2 separate regions of the Homo sapiens genome follow, and region 2 is linked to region 1. Evidence: fine-mapped expression QTL. Tissue or cell type: lung. Region 1 holds a variant in brackets; the other region holds the start of a gene. All regions are shown on one strand. Distances are between the middles of the regions.

The links. PIP is the estimated chance that this variant, and not a neighbour inherited with it, causes the effect.
Region 2: it holds the start of RCHY1, and the variant in region 1 is fine-mapped to the expression of RCHY1 in lung (TOPMed, PIP above 0.99). The same link has a PIP of 0.9 or more in fibroblasts, subcutaneous fat and tibial artery.

The regions. Positions count from the first base shown.
Region 1 is chr4:75,477,803-75,486,351 of GRCh38, forward strand. It overlaps RCHY1 (ring finger and CHY zinc finger domain containing 1), which reads right to left. Exons shown (of 9, transcript NM_015436.4): 9 at 1,231-4,864. The coding sequence ends at 4,736. Among named protein-coding and RNA genes, the nearest start is that of RCHY1, 32 kb to the right of the region's middle. The variant T/C (reference allele first, on the strand shown) is at 4,207.
Region 2 is chr4:75,509,261-75,517,809 of GRCh38, forward strand. RCHY1 (ring finger and CHY zinc finger domain containing 1) reads right to left here and starts at 5,143. Exons shown (of 9, transcript NM_015436.4): 1 at 4,937-5,143; 2 at 1-36. The coding sequence starts at 5,026. It overlaps THAP6 (THAP domain containing 6), which reads left to right and starts at 5,213. Exons shown (of 5, transcript NM_144721.6): 1 at 5,213-5,260; 2 at 6,173-6,272; 3 at 7,512-7,719. The coding sequence starts at 6,193. RefSeq lists enhancers at 4,252-5,182, 4,869-5,348, 5,183-6,113, 5,689-5,908.

The DNA.
Region 1 (8,549 bases):
ATTATAAAACAATAGTAATCAAAACAGCATGATACTGGCATAAAAACAGATATGTTGACTAGTGGAACAGGAGAGCCCAGAAATAAACCAACACACCTATAGTCAATTGGCTTTCAATAAATATGCCAACACTACACAATGAAGCCAGTCTCTTCAATAAATGGTGTTGGTAAAACTGAATATACACATGCAGAAGAATGAAACTGGATCCTTATCTCACACCACATATAAAAATCAACTCAAAATGGTTTAAAGACTTAAACATAAGACCTGAAACTATAAAACTACATGAACAAAACACAGGGGAAATGCTCCATAACACTGGTATGGGCAAAGATTTCTTGGATATAACCCCAAGAACACAGACAACAAAAAATACATGGCGCTGCATCAAACTAAAAAGCTTCTGCATAGTGAAGTGAATGATAGAATGAAGAGACAACCCATGAATTCGAAGAAAATATTTATAAATCATACATCTGATAAGGGGCTAATATCCAAAATACATAAGGTACTGAAGCCACTAATAAGAAAATGAACTCAATTAAAACATGGGCAAAGGATGTAAACAGATATTCCTAAAAAAGACACAAATGGCCAACAAATATATGAAAAGATGCTCATCATCACTAATCAGAAAAATGCAAATTAACACAAGGTATCACCTTACACCTGTTAGAATTACTATTATCAAAATGATAAAAGTGTTGACAGGGTGTAGAAAAAAGGGAACACTTGTGCACTGACGTTGGGAATGTAAATTAAAACAGCCAATATTAAAATCAGCATGGAGACAGAAAACTAAAAATAGAATTACCATATGATCCAGCAATCCCACTTCTGGACATATAGCTAAAGGAACTGAAGTCAGTGTGTCAAAGAGGTATCTGTACCACCACGTTCACTGCAGCATTATTCACAACAGCTAAGATATGGAAGCAATCTTAATGTCCATCATCATATGAATGAAAACAAAATGTGGCATATATACTCAATGGAATACTATTCAGCCCTATAAAAGAAAGAAATCCTGTCACTTGTGACAGGAACCTGGAAGACATTATACTAAATGAAATAACCCAGGCACAAAAAGGTAAATACTATGTGATCTCAGCTATCTGTGCAATCTAAAAAAAAGGTGAATTCATAGAAGTAGAATGGTGGTTACCAGAGGCTGGGAGAGAGAAGTGGATGGGAAAAGGGGAGATGCTGATCAAAGGGTACAAAATATCAGTTAGACAAGAGGAATAAACTTTACTGATCTATTACACAGAATGGTGAGTATAATAAATAATGCATTGTACATTTCAAAAATATTAAGAGTAGATTTTAAGTGGTTTTTTTACCACAAAAAATGGTATGAGGCAATAAATTTATTACATTGATTTAATCATTCTACACTGTAAACATATATCAAAACATCACATTGTACTCCATATATATAATATACACAATTATCAATTAAATTTTAATAACACAAAGGACAAAAGAAAAAGTGGCATAGTTTTGAACAACTCCCATTTAAAATTAATTCATTTCAAATTAAACTATTCAACTAGTGAATACCTATTGCCAGGCACTTATAAAATAATGTTGGCTCTTTAGTACTTAGTAAATTTATTTTGATGCATGACCAAAATAAAAGGGAAATTTAACATGTATATCATATGAAAATAGGTTTTAGTGAAGAAATAAAAACTGAGTTTGATTTTAAAATCCATGACACTATAAACAAACTACTACTTCCAACATAAGCTAAAGTTAATTCATAAAGAGTTCTATGTACTGGTTAAGAAGACCCCAGAAACTAAGAAATGAACAACTTGATATACACTCATTTTTTTTTTATACATACATCTTTAATGATAAAAGAAGCTGAGATGCTATGCACCAAAAAATTCGTAAGGGTATTGTTATTTTACTTTTTTCAAAAATAATCCAAATAAACTATAGATACAAATTCTGCGGCAGGGCAACCTAACTTATTTCAGGGACAGATAATTCTAGTGTACTTAAGATCTGTCTAAGTATTTAACATTCCTGTAAGCATTATAAAAAAGAATAGGAAAAGAATGAAGTTGTCTGTTAAAATGTTAACAGTAGTTCTCTCTGAAAGAAGGGATTGTTGAGAGTTTTTTACCTTCTTTCTTATAGAGGTATAACCTATACTTATGAAGTCAGAGAAAGAAAAAATATTTAAGGGTAAAGTTATGTATTTTAAGTTTTGCATACTGAATGGTAAGGGATGTAGATTTTATTCTTATTGTGAATGAGAAGTGTTGAAGGATTTTAATCATCGAGTTGACGTGTCATGAACAAATACTTGAAGCAACCCTGGGTACCGAAGCCTAGAGACTTTGAGTACATTTGAAAATTGCTTTAAGTGCATGACTAGACAGCATAAACGAGTGATTGCATATGTACTCTGCATTATTTTGGACATGTTTGGATCCTAAGTTAAAGAAACAATCAGATTGTGAAATAAGACTTTCTAACTAGAGTCACCTAAAAAAATGAAAGGTTAATCTATCAAATCATGAGCGCTTCAATGATATGGATGACTAGCTGTGAGGGGTATTTTAGCAAAATAGAAGTTTAGATCAAAAGCAATGTGGTAAAAGTGGGTTTGGAGTCAAACTTGGATCTGATTCCCAACTCCAACATATAGTGTCTGTTATTTACCCCCAATGTGTCATTTTAACCTCTAAACCTCAGCTTTCTTGTCTATGAGGACAACACTTACCCCACAGAATCATTGTAGTAATTAATGCTAATGCATGACCCAGCACAGATGTTGAAAACAGAAGAGCCTTATTATTATATACTCACTCCTATTTAAAGATCCAATGATTCAATGATTAAAAACAATAACATGATTGGTTTGGCAGAATAATACCAAACATAAAAAGTAATACATCTGGACCAAGCACAGTGGCTCATGCCTGTAATCCTAGCCCTTGGAAGGCCGAGGTAGGAGAAATGCTTGAGCCCAGGAGTTCAAGACCAGCCTGGACTTTGTTTCTACAAAACAATTAAAAATTAGCTGGGCATGGTGGCACACACCTGTAGTCCCAGCTACTCAGGAGGCTGAGGTGGAAGGATCAGTTCAGCCCAGGAAGTCAAGGCTGCAGTGAGCTACGATCACTTCACTACACTCTAGCCTAAATGACAGAGCAAAACCACTTCAAAAAAAAGTATTAGATCTGGAAAACTAGTCTTTACTTATCTGTATACTAATTGGTAATACCCAGGAACATCCTTTCCCAAATGAAGATCAGCACTGCTGCTCTGGCCAGGCCAAGGAAACAGATGAAGGGAAAGAACATAAGAAGAGTGGAATACAGAAGACAAGAAGGTGGGATAAAATAAAGATCTGAGTCCCAAACTGCTGCCTTTATCTAGGTGAATAAATTTCAACAAAAGAAGAAATAAATGTGCCAGAACTCTTAGGCTTTCTAGTTAAAAGGCTAACTTCCTTATTCAAAGAAGATTCAAATAGCTCAAAGTTGGAAATACAACTGGTGCTCAATAGGTACTTATCAACTGATAAATGTACATTTTACATCCTAGCCTAATGGTAAAGCTATTACGGAGATAACAGTGTCAAAGTCGGCTGGATCATCAAACATATTTGTTAACTTTGTTCCTGAAGTAAGAGGTATATTTAATTCCACTACATGAGCCCAAAAAAGTATTATGAAATCAGAGATCTTGCCAGGAATATCCCATGCCCTTCCCACTCATCCATCCCCTATTTTCACACGCTTAGGGAAGAAATATTCTATTCATTTACAATAAGACATCCACTCCTTGCATAAAGAAAAATGAGTACATTGATCAAATATGATGAACAATAGAATGTACTGCTGTGAGGACAAGGACTTTTATCTTTATTGTTCACTGTTGTCTCTACAGCATCTAGAAACATATCTGCCACATAGCAGTTGCTCAATAAATACTTGCTAAATGAAGGAATGAATGACTCTTTGAAGAAATAATTTTGGGCAACCTAAAAAAAACTGTTTTCAATGTTGATGTTTTTATTAAGGCTTTGGAAGAGTCTTATTATTTTACATAATAATTTTCCCAACTACTTTTATGGAATACCTCAAAAGAAAGAAAATTTCTTTTACATTATAGAACTGATGATACTGCCCTAATTGAGCCAAACATAGAAAACTTTGGAAAAAACTTTCTATAAAACAG[T/C]TTCAATATAATTTTATTAGCAGTTATTACATCAAAATTCACATTTAGAGGATCCAGAGGACTGTCTTAGAAAATTCTAAAGCATATTTAATTAGGTTTTAACAGTAAGGGAGAACTTAATATAACACAGCCCTTAAAAAGTCAAGACTACTACTGAAAATTAAGTGCAGTTCTATCAAGAACTAGAAATGAACTGCACGCGTAGTGTCACTTAAAGCAAAGCTTCATGAAAATATAATACACTTCTATGAATGTATCAGTGGCAAACATCATTGGCTTCCAAAAAACTGACACTAAAGGAATTTCCAATCAAAACACAAGCACAGTGGCTTTCATTCAATATAGAGCTATGATAAGTCTATCAAGAGACCCTGAATCCTTACGTACTTGTAATATGATTTTATGCTGTGACACTAGTACAAAACACATCAACTCTAATGCATAGATGACGACACATGATAACACGATACCAAGGAAAGCCTTTTTCTATATCAGAAAATGCCAAGTTCTCCAGTACTGTGTAGGCTCGTCATTGCTGATCCAGTGAAATTCTACGTCCTCCAGCTTGAGCAGTATTATAGGATTCACAAATCTTACATTTCATGCCTAATATATGAAACTGAACAGTGGATCGTCCATTACAGTCATTGCAGAGAATCTGAAAAGAGATTAATTCAAATTAAGTATTTTAAACCTTATAAATACAAGTAGCATTGTCTACTCATAATCCCTTGAAAATCATATTAAAGATGTGAAAATACATACATAAGTCTAAAAATTTCCAAAAGTAGAAATTTCTTCTTATTTTTTCACTGAAAACTCTAAAAAGCTATTAAGGTGGCTCTGAATTCAGAAAATGAAAAGGCAGATTTGAGCAAAAAAAAAGCTTATTTTAAAATAGTTTCCAAATATTAAATAGTATAAATAGTACAAGCAAGAAAATTAACCTAGGCATAATCAGATGAATACCTGATACTTATAATTCAAAATAACAACATGATTTCATTATTTTTCAGTCAGAAATGTATCTCAATTAATAAAACCAAAATTTTTACACAAATAATATTTTTGCTTATTTTTTAGGTTTAGTATACTGTTCCCTGTCTTCTCTGCCTTAGGAATGAATTAAATTCCAAAAAGAGTGTTCCTAAAATTGAGTAAACAGAGAGGCTCTTCGCTCATCCCTACAATAACAATAAGATGCCGTTTAAGAATTAATTTCTTCTAGTGCTAAGTAAGAACCTGAAAAATAACAAAGGTGTTAACCTGAAAATCAATACATTACTATGCAAGAAAAGCACTAGTTTTTGAATAGTCACACTATAATAAGCAGAAAATTTCCAAATTTGCTCTAAATTATAATTTGGAAAATAATTATTTAAAAAATATGATCTAAATGGAGAAAGTGGATTAGTGGTTGCCTAGGCCTGGGGCGTTAGGGAATGACTGCTAATGGGTATGAGTGTTTCCTTTTTGGGATGATAAAAATGTTCTAAAATTGTGGTGATGTTTGCATAACTACATGAATATTTTAAAAAGCACCAAATTGTACAATTTAAATGAATGAACTATATAATATGTGAATTGTATCTTAATGAAGCCATTATTTCCAAAAATTATCTACATGGAACATAGCACACTTCGGCCTCTAGTCAATCACATGATTATCGGTTAGTATTCCAAAAGTGATTTTTCATTGCCCTAACAATTATCCACATGAATTATGAAACACTCCAGTGTAAATAAAACAAAAAATAATTTTCATTTGGCTTTGCTACGTGGTTTTTATCCTCGTATGCTGAAGTATCTGAAGATGTTCAGAAAATGTGTAATATAACCAAAAATTATCTAGCCAGAATACTAGGCTTTCCCATTCTAATCTAAAACTCAATACCATGTATGGCTGAGAAGAGACAGCAACACATCTTAATTAAACGAAAAAAGATGATCACTCTCCATAAGCCAAAAGGCACAGAAACAACCTTTTATGCTTTAGGTTGCAAGCTAATTGCAACCAAATAAAGAAAGTCAAGACCCTCTGAATCTATTCTGGTTCAGGGCTGCCTGATTCACAAACTGTTTCTCAATTAAGTTCTGTTAAATTTAATTTGTGTAAGGTTTTGCTTCAAACAGCTGGCATCAGAAGTGGGATTTGAAGTACAGCTTTCAGTGACCGCCAGGAGCACCAAGGGGACCCAGTAAGGTACCGTTAGGCCCTTTGTGTCCACTGCTCTCTTGCAGCCATTAGGAATCATGGTAAGTTCTCAGATTCTAAAGCTCTGCGCATTTGTGTTTTGAGCTATCCAAGTTTTTTTGAACACATTTTCTATCTGAACTGAATTCAGAAGTCGCAACAAAAACTGGACTGGGTCCAGGATCCAACTGCCTTGGATCTAGCTAAAGACCTCTTATGCCTGACTGGGTCGGGCAGAAGCACAGTAAATGGCAAAACAGCAGGGGGTGGGGGTGCAAATTTTGGCTTTTGGAAATTCACAGGGTTTTTTGTGTCCTGCCCTCTTCAATTCTTCTTCTTGCACATTTAAGTAGAGAAAAATCACTGGTTAAGTTTACCAAGGAAATATGAGAGCCAAAGCCAAGATTCAAGGTGAAAATGGGATCCTTAATTTCTGAAGAACTGAGCAATCTACCTTCTGGCTCTGCCTACATTTACAAGTGTAAGTATTAGGCCCCAGAAGCAGCACTTTTTAAACATTTTATAGAAGGATAAAATGCCATTTGCTTATAGAAATGGCAAAACCTTACTAAAAGTAATTTAAAATTATAATGGAACGTCCCAAATGAACACTTAAAACTACACTTTAAGAAGTGCATTTGATGATGGCCATAAGCTGTTAAAAACCAAACCAAAAAAAAAAGTGCATTTGAAAATGAGGGCTCCCAAATTAGACTCATCTAAGAATGCCTATTGAGTGAAGCTTCTAAAAATATTTCAATATTTTTATTGCCTTAAAAAAAAGATGTTTTAAAAGGCAAATAAAAAGCTTAACTAACTGATAAGACAAATTAAATCTACTAGCCTTTTGGCTTAGTTACTATACTGCCCTGAAGGCTAAAAGAAAGCTAGCCTGGATTAAATGTTTATAAAATATAGGCCCTTAGGTAAAGCTGACTTGCCTCTTTTTCAGATCTATCCATACTGTGCCCAGGCATGGACATGGACACTAAGATACTTCTGTTTAATTTCTGAGTAAACTGCAAACAATAAAAAAGAACGCTGTCTTTCCCCTACTGTCTTAGTGGGCTCCACCCTGAACTCAGTAATTTTAGCTAAGAAACAGTAGTTAAATTTTTAAAAACGATCTATGGAACTAAAGTATACCTTTCTGGCATTCAACTGGCTATACTGAAGGCTATCCTGAAACCCTTTTGGTAAAATCAATTTATATCTATAAAGGAAATTTACATTTGTAAAGGTGTCTGTGTACATTAGGAACTCTTATCACTATTTTAAATTTATATAGTAAGTCATACCTTTGTTTAAGGTGACTGGCCATCTTGTCTTAACTTTTACTCACACCATTTTTTCCTTGGTTTGAGCAAATGATGGTACAATATTTACGTCTAAAGTCTTAGCTGTGTGCTTTTGAGATATACATTTTCTACCTTGTTTGACCTAAGAATTGGCCCTTTAGAAATGCATATTTAGGGCTGCCTAGCTAACAATTGCTTAGGGCAATGAAACAGGTTAATTGGTAAACTGATAGTCTGAATGGTGAATAGAAAAACTATTTAAAAGCCAGCAAATGAGAATCCTTTAGGAAAGCTCTAAGATCTGCTTCTGTCTGTGTCTGTATTCCTATAGGTGTTATGTGTATGTGATAACATTTGGTAAATAAAGCCAGTTTTTATATTGTTAGTAAATAGGAATGGCTTCAGAGGTGTCTGTTGAATATAATTCAACACTTGCTTGATTTGACTGTGAGCTTGTTTTGGGTTTTGAACCTCTAGATTCTCAAGTCTGGCTAGGTGAGACCTGGGTACATGTTCTCAGTGCCTAGACCTGTAGCTACAAAGCAGAATCAAGCCCACTAGAGCTTCTTCTTCCCTGTCTTAGCTTTGCCTCCTGGCTATTCTAGGAGGGGTTCCATCCTCCAAGCATCATCTTTACAGCTCTGTCTTCTGTTCAAAGCTCTGTAAGTGGTACGTAAATTCAGGACTCAGACAGGCTCTGCCCTTCATAGCCCTCCTGGTTGACATATGACTACTTGAGACTCAAGATGACTGAGAAAACATTCGGGAGGGTACATCTGTGTCCTAATTTCAAATTTTTTTTCAGTAATTTAAAATCTTATAGTCATATGTTTAAGTAAATAATCATAAAA
Region 2 (8,549 bases), 31 kb after region 1:
CAAGCGGCAAGTATAAAGCTTGTCACAGCAAGGTGCCTAACACCCACGGAGAAAAAAGAGATATAGTAAGAAGCAAAAGAAACTAAGTGTGCAATACAAAAAGAAAATTTCTTCCTCCTCCTCCTGGATGGAACTGAAAGATTACAACCAATAGATCAGTTGCTAAACTGATCCTAAACATAACATTTCACTAGTTTCTTGGCATATTTTATGTTAATTCTTCCCTTCAACATCACTACGTCTGTATGAAGTTGAACACAACTTTAAAACAAAAGAATTATGAAGGAAATCCCTAGATTGAAACACTAATCCCACAACACCTGATATGCTTTGGCTGTGTTCCCACCCAAATCTCAACTTGAAATGTATCTCCCAGAATTCCCACGTGTTGTGGGAGGGACTTAGAAGGAGGTAACTGAATCATGGGGGCCAGACTCTCCCGTGCCATTCTCGTGATAATGAATAAAATCTCATGAGATCTGATGGGTTTATCAGGAGTTTCCACTTTTGCTTCTTCCTCATTTTCTATTGCCACCACCATGTAAGAAGTGCCTTTTGTCTCCCGCCATGATTCTCAGGCCTCCCTAGCCATGTGGAACTGTAAGTCCAATTAAACCTCTTTTTCTTCCCAGTCTTGGGTATGTCTTTATCAGCAGTGTGAAAACAGACTAATATAACACCCCAATTTCATTCTGAGCCTAAACAGCAAACAGGCAACCTCTTCTTAGACATTTCCAGATAAATTCATTTACATTAAAAATAATAAAGATTATATTCTTATTTTACTAGCTTTTATTAATCATCAACCTCATATCTAATATTGCACAAAATGCAACAAATGTAAGAGACAGCCCTTGTTTTCAAACACGGCAAAGACTGCCAGTTGTCCACCAAAATCTATCCTCTCCTTCCTGGGCACAATTGTTCAGCTATATCAGACAGATGGCCACATGCCCTAAAACATGACAAAATGATACAACAGAAAAATCTCATCCCTGGAGTGACCATGTGGAGCAAAGCCTCATCACCAACCTGCATCACTCGCCTTGGAATTGTTAAATGGAAAGAAATAAAACCTTTACTCTTTAATCTACATCACTGTTGGGTTTTTTCATTACAGCAACTTTACCATTACAAGTATATCAAGAGATTTCCAGGCCAGTGACTTTCCAATACACTGTGACCTTGCAGATCCACTCATTTCTGAAGGCTTCCTATGCCTTGACTTACCATAACGTAGTTCATTCCTTAAAGATTTTAACACTTAACTGGCTTCCTTTTTCTGCAACTCTCAGTTCCTTAACTTTGTCATTTCCAATAACCTTGTCCTCCAACCCACTATTCTCATAGTTATACCGCAGAACAGTAGTTCTCAAATGGTTTGGTCTCAGGATCCCTTCACACTTTTTAAAATTACTGAGAATCCCAAAGAGCTTTGGTTTATGTGGATTTTATCTATTGACATATACCACATCATAAATTAAAAAGAATAGGTTTTTAAAATATTACTTCTTTTTAAAAGTAACAAACTCATTACTTGTTAACATAAATAACATGTTTTAATGAAAAATAACTATATTTTTCCCCCCAAACAGCTGAATTCTTCTATCTGCTTATGCATTCAAACAGTTGTGGCTGAAGTACAAAAAGAAACTCTGGCCTCACACAAATATGTACACTGGAAAAGAAAGGAGTATTTTAATAGCCTTTTTGGAGAATTATGGATATCATTCTCTGATATTACACTAGAACAACAACTCTTAAAGGGTAGTTGCAACATGAAATCTGAAATCGTATCAAGGAATATGATTGATATGATGCCTCTTTTCTTCCTTGGTTACATTAAAATCTATTGCTCTATCTTGCACTTCAAATGGATGTTTTACTCATGCATTGGTCATCTGGAGAATACCAGTTCAGTGAGTTATTTACATCTTCTAAATGTTCACACATTTAACATGCAATATCAAAAAATCATATTCATTAAAAGTCTTTAGGTATTGAAGAAAATCTCACCAAAAAAAGTCTTTTAAAAAGCTTCCAACCTCACAAAAGCTAGTAAAAGTTTTCCAAAATTCTAATTTTTGTGTGAAAGCTTGAATTTTATCACTGGCAACAAATACTGTCATTTTCATTTGTAGTGAGTCTCACTTTTCTCCTTTTTGAGAAAATGTCTGCCAACTACCCAAATGTGAATGACTACAATTTTTTCAAGTAAAAAATGCTGTTCCATGAAAAAAAGCAACTAGTTCACTTTACAATCCAATTTGCACAAGAGCTTTTCCTCAAGACAACCCTCTAATTTCAGTTTGCAGAAGTGTTTGATCAAAACTTCCCATGTCATTGAACAGCATATTAAAAGATATATTCAAGGGTTGAGATTTGGTTAAAATTAACGATTTTACTGCTTTATCAACATTTTTAAGTGAAGCTGGCTTTTTAAAAAAACTATAGGTGTAGTATAGTTCAGTGCCACTGTCTTGATTCAAGCTAAGATACTAGCAATACTAAACAGTGCTTTTCCACCATCAATGCGTGTGTCAACAGACTGAAAAAAAAAAAAAACAAATATCTTAGTGTTCATAGAAAGTAGTTTTGGCCTTGCAGAGCCCCTGAAAGGACTTCAGGAATCCCCAGGGTTCCATTCACCACACTTTGAAAACCAATGCTACAGAACAACGGCACCCTCTTTGCATCTCAATTCCAAGCATGAAATTCTCTAACCATTACCTCCTCCCTAACTTACTCCAAGTCTCCCCTTGCAACACCCTAGTTCCCTTCTCAGTTCCTCTACACTCATAGATAACAATCCCAACCCTAGTTAAATCCTATTTGACTTCTATCAGAAGCAGGTGAATATGGCTAGAGAAAAAGCATCACCGTCCTTGCTGGTTCATATGAGGTGGACACTTACTACCACGTTTCCCTGGTCAATTCTCTCATTCTTCCAGAGTCTAAGACCTAAGATTTAGATGATCATTTCACTTCTTCTCCTCTGGCTTTAAAACTCTAACAACTCTTCCTCCTTAACACTCTGCTGATGACCTTATTTCACTATAAAAACAGTAAACATACTTCCTGCTGACAGGCCTGAAAAGAACATCCTCCTATTATCTCTATTAACTTACTTGCAAATATACCTCATTCTCTGCCTTCCCTTAGGAAGAACTGACAGTCTATGTTTCTAAGGCCAACTCCTTCACTTGTGCACTGGATTTCATCCCCTTTGGCTACTCAGGGACAATGCCCTTACAGTTTTCTCACTCTCTCCTGCATTATAAAACGTTCTCACTCTATTGTATCATTTCCTAGAATATACAAACATGCTGTAATACTTCCTCTCTTAAAGAGGAAAAAATATGGTGCCAGATCTCCCAGCAACCACATCTTTTTTTTGCTCCCCTTTACAGCTAAACCCCAAGAATACCCTATAAGTGCTATTTTCAATTCCACTCCTCCCATTCTTTCCTAAATTCACTCTAATCCTGATCTCTCCACTAAAACTCCTCTTGTCAAGATCACCAGTGACCTCTTCCTTGCCAAATCCAAAGGGCAATTCTCAGTTATCTTACTCAAACAGCTGCATTTGACCCAGCTGACCACATCCTCCTTGAAATACTTCACTTGGCCTCTGGTATTTAAGGGGGGGGGGGGGGCGGGGGAAGGCAAAAACTGTTTGACACCTAGGGCGAAGTATCTTAGTGCTATGATACACAGATCTAATTGTGTGGTTTATGGGGGGCACCAAGATGTTAAATTCCGTTTTAGACCTCAAGTTTGAAAGAATAATAATACATCTCAGTAGAAATTGAATCATAAGGATAGCATTCAATTTCCTTACACAACACTTGGTGGATGACCAACATTTTTAAGGAGCTTCATCCAGTTCAGTGGAGCAATGTTCGTCAAGCCATGACCTATAGAAAAGAGTTTAGGATGCACGTACAGGCCTGAGACTTGAACTTGCTTCTAATAATGAGGCAGTGACCAGCAAGGCTGACTTGTGAAGTGAAAGAACAAAAAATAATAATACTCAGATTGACGATGATAGTAACAGTCATGGTGGTATATATTTACTACTCATTTACTTCAGGGAATGCGCCCTGTTAAACACTATACACGCCCTTTAGTATATAATCCTCATACACTTTTATGAAACAGGCGCGATCATCTCCATTTTACATACGGGGTAGAGAGGAGCTAGCTAAAATCAGTTATTAAAGAGGAGAGCTAAGATTTGGGGATAGGGCGGTTGAGGTTCCAAAGCTCAAGTTTTCTAAGCAAAATTTTTGTACTGTTTCTTGCAAGGAAAATCAGGAAACTTCAATTGAATACGTGCCAATTTAAAAAAAAATACAGATTAAGAAGTTTTCTCAGAGTAACAATACATGCTTATTAGGCACTTTCCTATGCATAATTTCCTATTTAATGGCAATTACATGATTGTCTTCTTTTTTGGGACACACGTTTTCTCCTACGTCTGAACATGTGCACTGCCTTTAACATGAAGCTGGCAGGCTATAAAACTTTACCACAGGAGCTGAAATCGTATTCGGGTTCTCCACTTGCTTATTTCCATTATCTCCACTTCCATTATTTCATCACACACCTGAACGGAAAACCCCAGTACAGGCCCGGGGCTGCCTCAGTCTACTTCGGCAGCAAAAGACGAATAAGCCCACTGGCAGAGACCACTGTGCAAGCCTAATCACTTCCCAAGAAGGGTTTTGCTTTAAAGGTACGAAGCAGGTAGGAAAGGTGGGGCTTATCGCCTTGCCAAAAACGTTCTCCTCAAGAAGAACCCAGTTCCAGGTGGAAAAGGTATCCTGAAAATCAGGTTAACCTCAAACTTAAATCCAAGCCTAACCACCTGCCCAGCCCGCCCCAGCCCAACCTGACGGAAGCTTGTCAGGGAAGAGTCCATAGAAGGCGTCACCTTTAGGAGACATCCTCTGTCATAGTGCTCGCAGCCCCGCTGACCTCGCTCTTGACCGCTGGCGCCATCTTCCCGGGCCGTCGCCGCCATCTCCTCCACCTCCCCTCACATTCCACCGATCCTTCCCCCAGGATAAAAACCACGCCCAGAGAAGCTGCGCCTCTCTAGCACACCCCTCCCAGCCCCAGCGGCCACTAGCGACAATATGGCTCCTAAGCACGTGACCCGGGGCAGACGGATTTCCGGTTCCCGGGGCTACGAGGCGGAAGCGAAGGCAGACGCAGTCTCCGTCGTTGACGTTAGTCGCAGTCTTCGCTGCTAACGGTAATAACTCTTAGGTTGCCTGTTTTCCCCCAATCGCTACCCGCCCAAATCTCAGGGCGTAGTTCGGCGCGAGGTTGGCGGCAGCGGCGCGGAGACGCTGGTTGGCCCCAGAGGAAAGGACGCTCACTGGGCGCATCGTTACCTGTGACGGGTCCTCCCTCTCTCCCTCCGGTGGCGGGGAGCCTGGAGAAAGGGGCGGAGCTCGGCCCGGGCCCTGGGCTCAGCGGGTCCCGCGCGCTGCTCTTGGACGCCAGGGTGCTCGCTGGCACCTCGAAGTGCTTCTTGCTTCCTCCCTTTCCCGTTTACTTGCTGTTCTTTCAAAATATGTACTGACATTCACTATTGCCAGTCACCAGCTAAACCGTGAGGACAAAAAGTAAGGAAAAATAGACACACTCCACCATGACCTCATGGAACTAACAAGACTGGTGGAGGAGGAAGACATTAATAAGAGCAATCACTGCAATAAATGTAAGATTACAACCTGGAGAAGTGCTAGGAAGAAGTGTGTGTCCTGTGAGAGCTAATATTAGAGCAGCTCTGACAATCTGAGTGTCAGTGAGGGAAGGCTTCCCTGGGGAAGCGATGCAAGCCGAGGGCTGAAAGATGGGTAGGAGTTAGTGTGCAAAAGGCTTTGTGGCACAAAGAACATGGTACCTGTTAGAAGGTGGAAGGAAAATGTACAAGCCAACAAAATTGAAATCATACTCGGGGTACACAGCTAAATATGTTTCTCCTTATTAAAGAGTCAAGGCCCTGGAAAATGATGTAAGCAAAGCTGCAGGTGTTAGAAGAAGATATTTGTCTTTAGCTTTCTATCCTGATTTTGTGTTTCCTAAAACACCGGGAAAGGGAAAATATTCCCCTTCAGCTTTCCGGTTACTAACTCTTAACATTCTAATTTTCTTTCAGTTTTGTTATGAGTTGCTAAAATGGTGAAATGCTGCTCCGCCATTGGATGTGCTTCTCGCTGCTTGCCAAATTCGAAGTTAAAAGGACTGACATTTCACGTGTAAGATTTTGCTGTAGTTAAGCCAAATACTTTGGCCATGTTATAAAAAGCAAAAGACAGTTCTACTTAAGTCTTCAATTTTGAACTTTAGTTCCCGAGTCCTTTTTAAATAACCTTTTTGTTAAATTTGAAGTGACAATGTGATACCTTTACATGTTTATAATTTAGTTTAAAAGTTTTAAGATATCAGAGACTTTAAGATATCAGAGACTGGTTTACAAAAAATACCATAAGGCTAACTTTTGCTAATATTATTACTTTGTATTTTATCACACCGCCAAAGAAATTCAATGTTGTTTACATGTAGTTTACAATCTGAATGAAGGAGCTTTGCTCGAATATATTGCCCTCTCTATTTAGAAGTAGATCAAGCATAGGTTATAGAGAAAAAATACAAATTACAAGTTAAGACCAAGGGATCTTTAGCTGTGTTGCAAATAAATCAAAATGATTTTAGTTTCATATTTTAGCCATTCTCTTGACAGCCATGAAGGAGTAAGTGAAGGAGTAATAAGATTTAATAGTTGTTCACTTGTTAAAGGTTTATTTTGCTGCTTTTGTGCCAGGCACTGTCCTATGTGTTAGAGAAAGATCTCCTAGCTATTTTGTTAGATATAATAAATCAAAACTGAGCATATATATCCTACCTTATTTTAGAAAAATTTGAACCAGCTTGAAAATTGAGTAAGATATGGCTATTAGGCCTTCATATCTCTCAAAATAGCTCTGATCTCCAGAACTCCACACTGCAGCTATTCTCTGCATTCATTCACTAAGCATCTGTAGACCTGCTATGTATTAAATGCTGTACTAAGCAATTTTCTGGTGCTGACAGAAGAATGGAATTACAAGGGGCCCTTTTTATCGAGGATAAATTCTGGATATCATTTCAGATAGGAAAAGGCCCAAGTGATAATTCTTTTATCATCTATAGATGAATAAATACCTTCAATTGTGGATCTTACTATAAGATGCTAAATATCCATTGAAACTTTTCTTCCTTATAATGTGAGAAAAAATGAAATGAGGGCCATATATCTGCAGCATGATTGGCAGAAAATCTGAATATTAAAACGGAAAGTAACAAAAGCATGAATTATGGTTTCCTAAATATTATAATTCTCAAGACTAATAAACTAGTTAACGAATCAATTTAGTCACAGTTGTATAAGGCAGCTTTAATTCAATTATATAGCAATAGTATTTGATTTTAAAATATTTTTTGTATTTTTTTTCTAGATTCCCCACAGATGAAAACATCAAAAGGAAATGGGTATTAGCAATGAAAAGACTTGATGTGAATGCAGCCGGCATTTGGGAGCCTAAAAAAGGAGATGTGTTGTGTTCGAGGCACTTTAAGAAGACAGATTTTGACAGAAGTGCTCCAAATATTAAACTGAAACCTGGAGTCATACCTTCTATCTTTGATTCTCCATATCACCTACAGGTTTGTTTATGAGATACTGTTTACCATCATTGCTCACTTTTTTTTTTTTTTTTTTTTGAGATAGAGTCTCGCTCTGTCACCAAGGCTGGAGTGCAGTGGCGCGATCTCAGCTCACTGCAATCTCTGCCTCCAGGGTTTAAGCAATTCTCTGCCTCAGCCTCCCGAGAAGCTGGGATTACAGGCACCTGCCACCACACCTGGCTAATTTTTGTATTTTTAGGAGAGATGGCGTTTCACCATCTTGGCCAGGCTGGTCTTGAACTCCTGACCTCGTGATCCACCCTCCTCGGCGTCCCAAAGTGCTGGGATTACAGGCATGAGCCACCGTGCCTGGCCATTGCTCACTTTTTATGATACTATTGAAGAACCTTCACCACTCTTGCTAACATTTTTATTGTTTGCTTATTCATTTGAAGTCTGTTCTTGAAGTTTTAAATTTGTAGACTGCATCTTCAACTTTTGTAATGTGTAGTAGGAGTATTTTACCAGTAACCACTCATAAATATTTGTATATTACTAAGGTTTGATGAAGTGGGCTGACTTTAGGAATTAGCATAACTGAAGATTTTTGTCTAAAAATGGAAGTTAACGTAAGAAGGTTGAACTGATGTTCCAAGTTGGCAGTCCTTAACACTGGGGCAGAAGTCAGGAGTAGAACCACTAACAGGACTAAAGTACTTGTAAGAGCCACATACATGCAAGCATAAAGTCTAGGTAGGATCAAAAGGAAGAAAACCAAAAAAGAGATCTAAGAACAGGAGAAGAAAAGGTCAGGAAAAGAAAGAACAGTCAAATAAGTAAACGCTAATTGAATTCCATGTTTTTTCTGG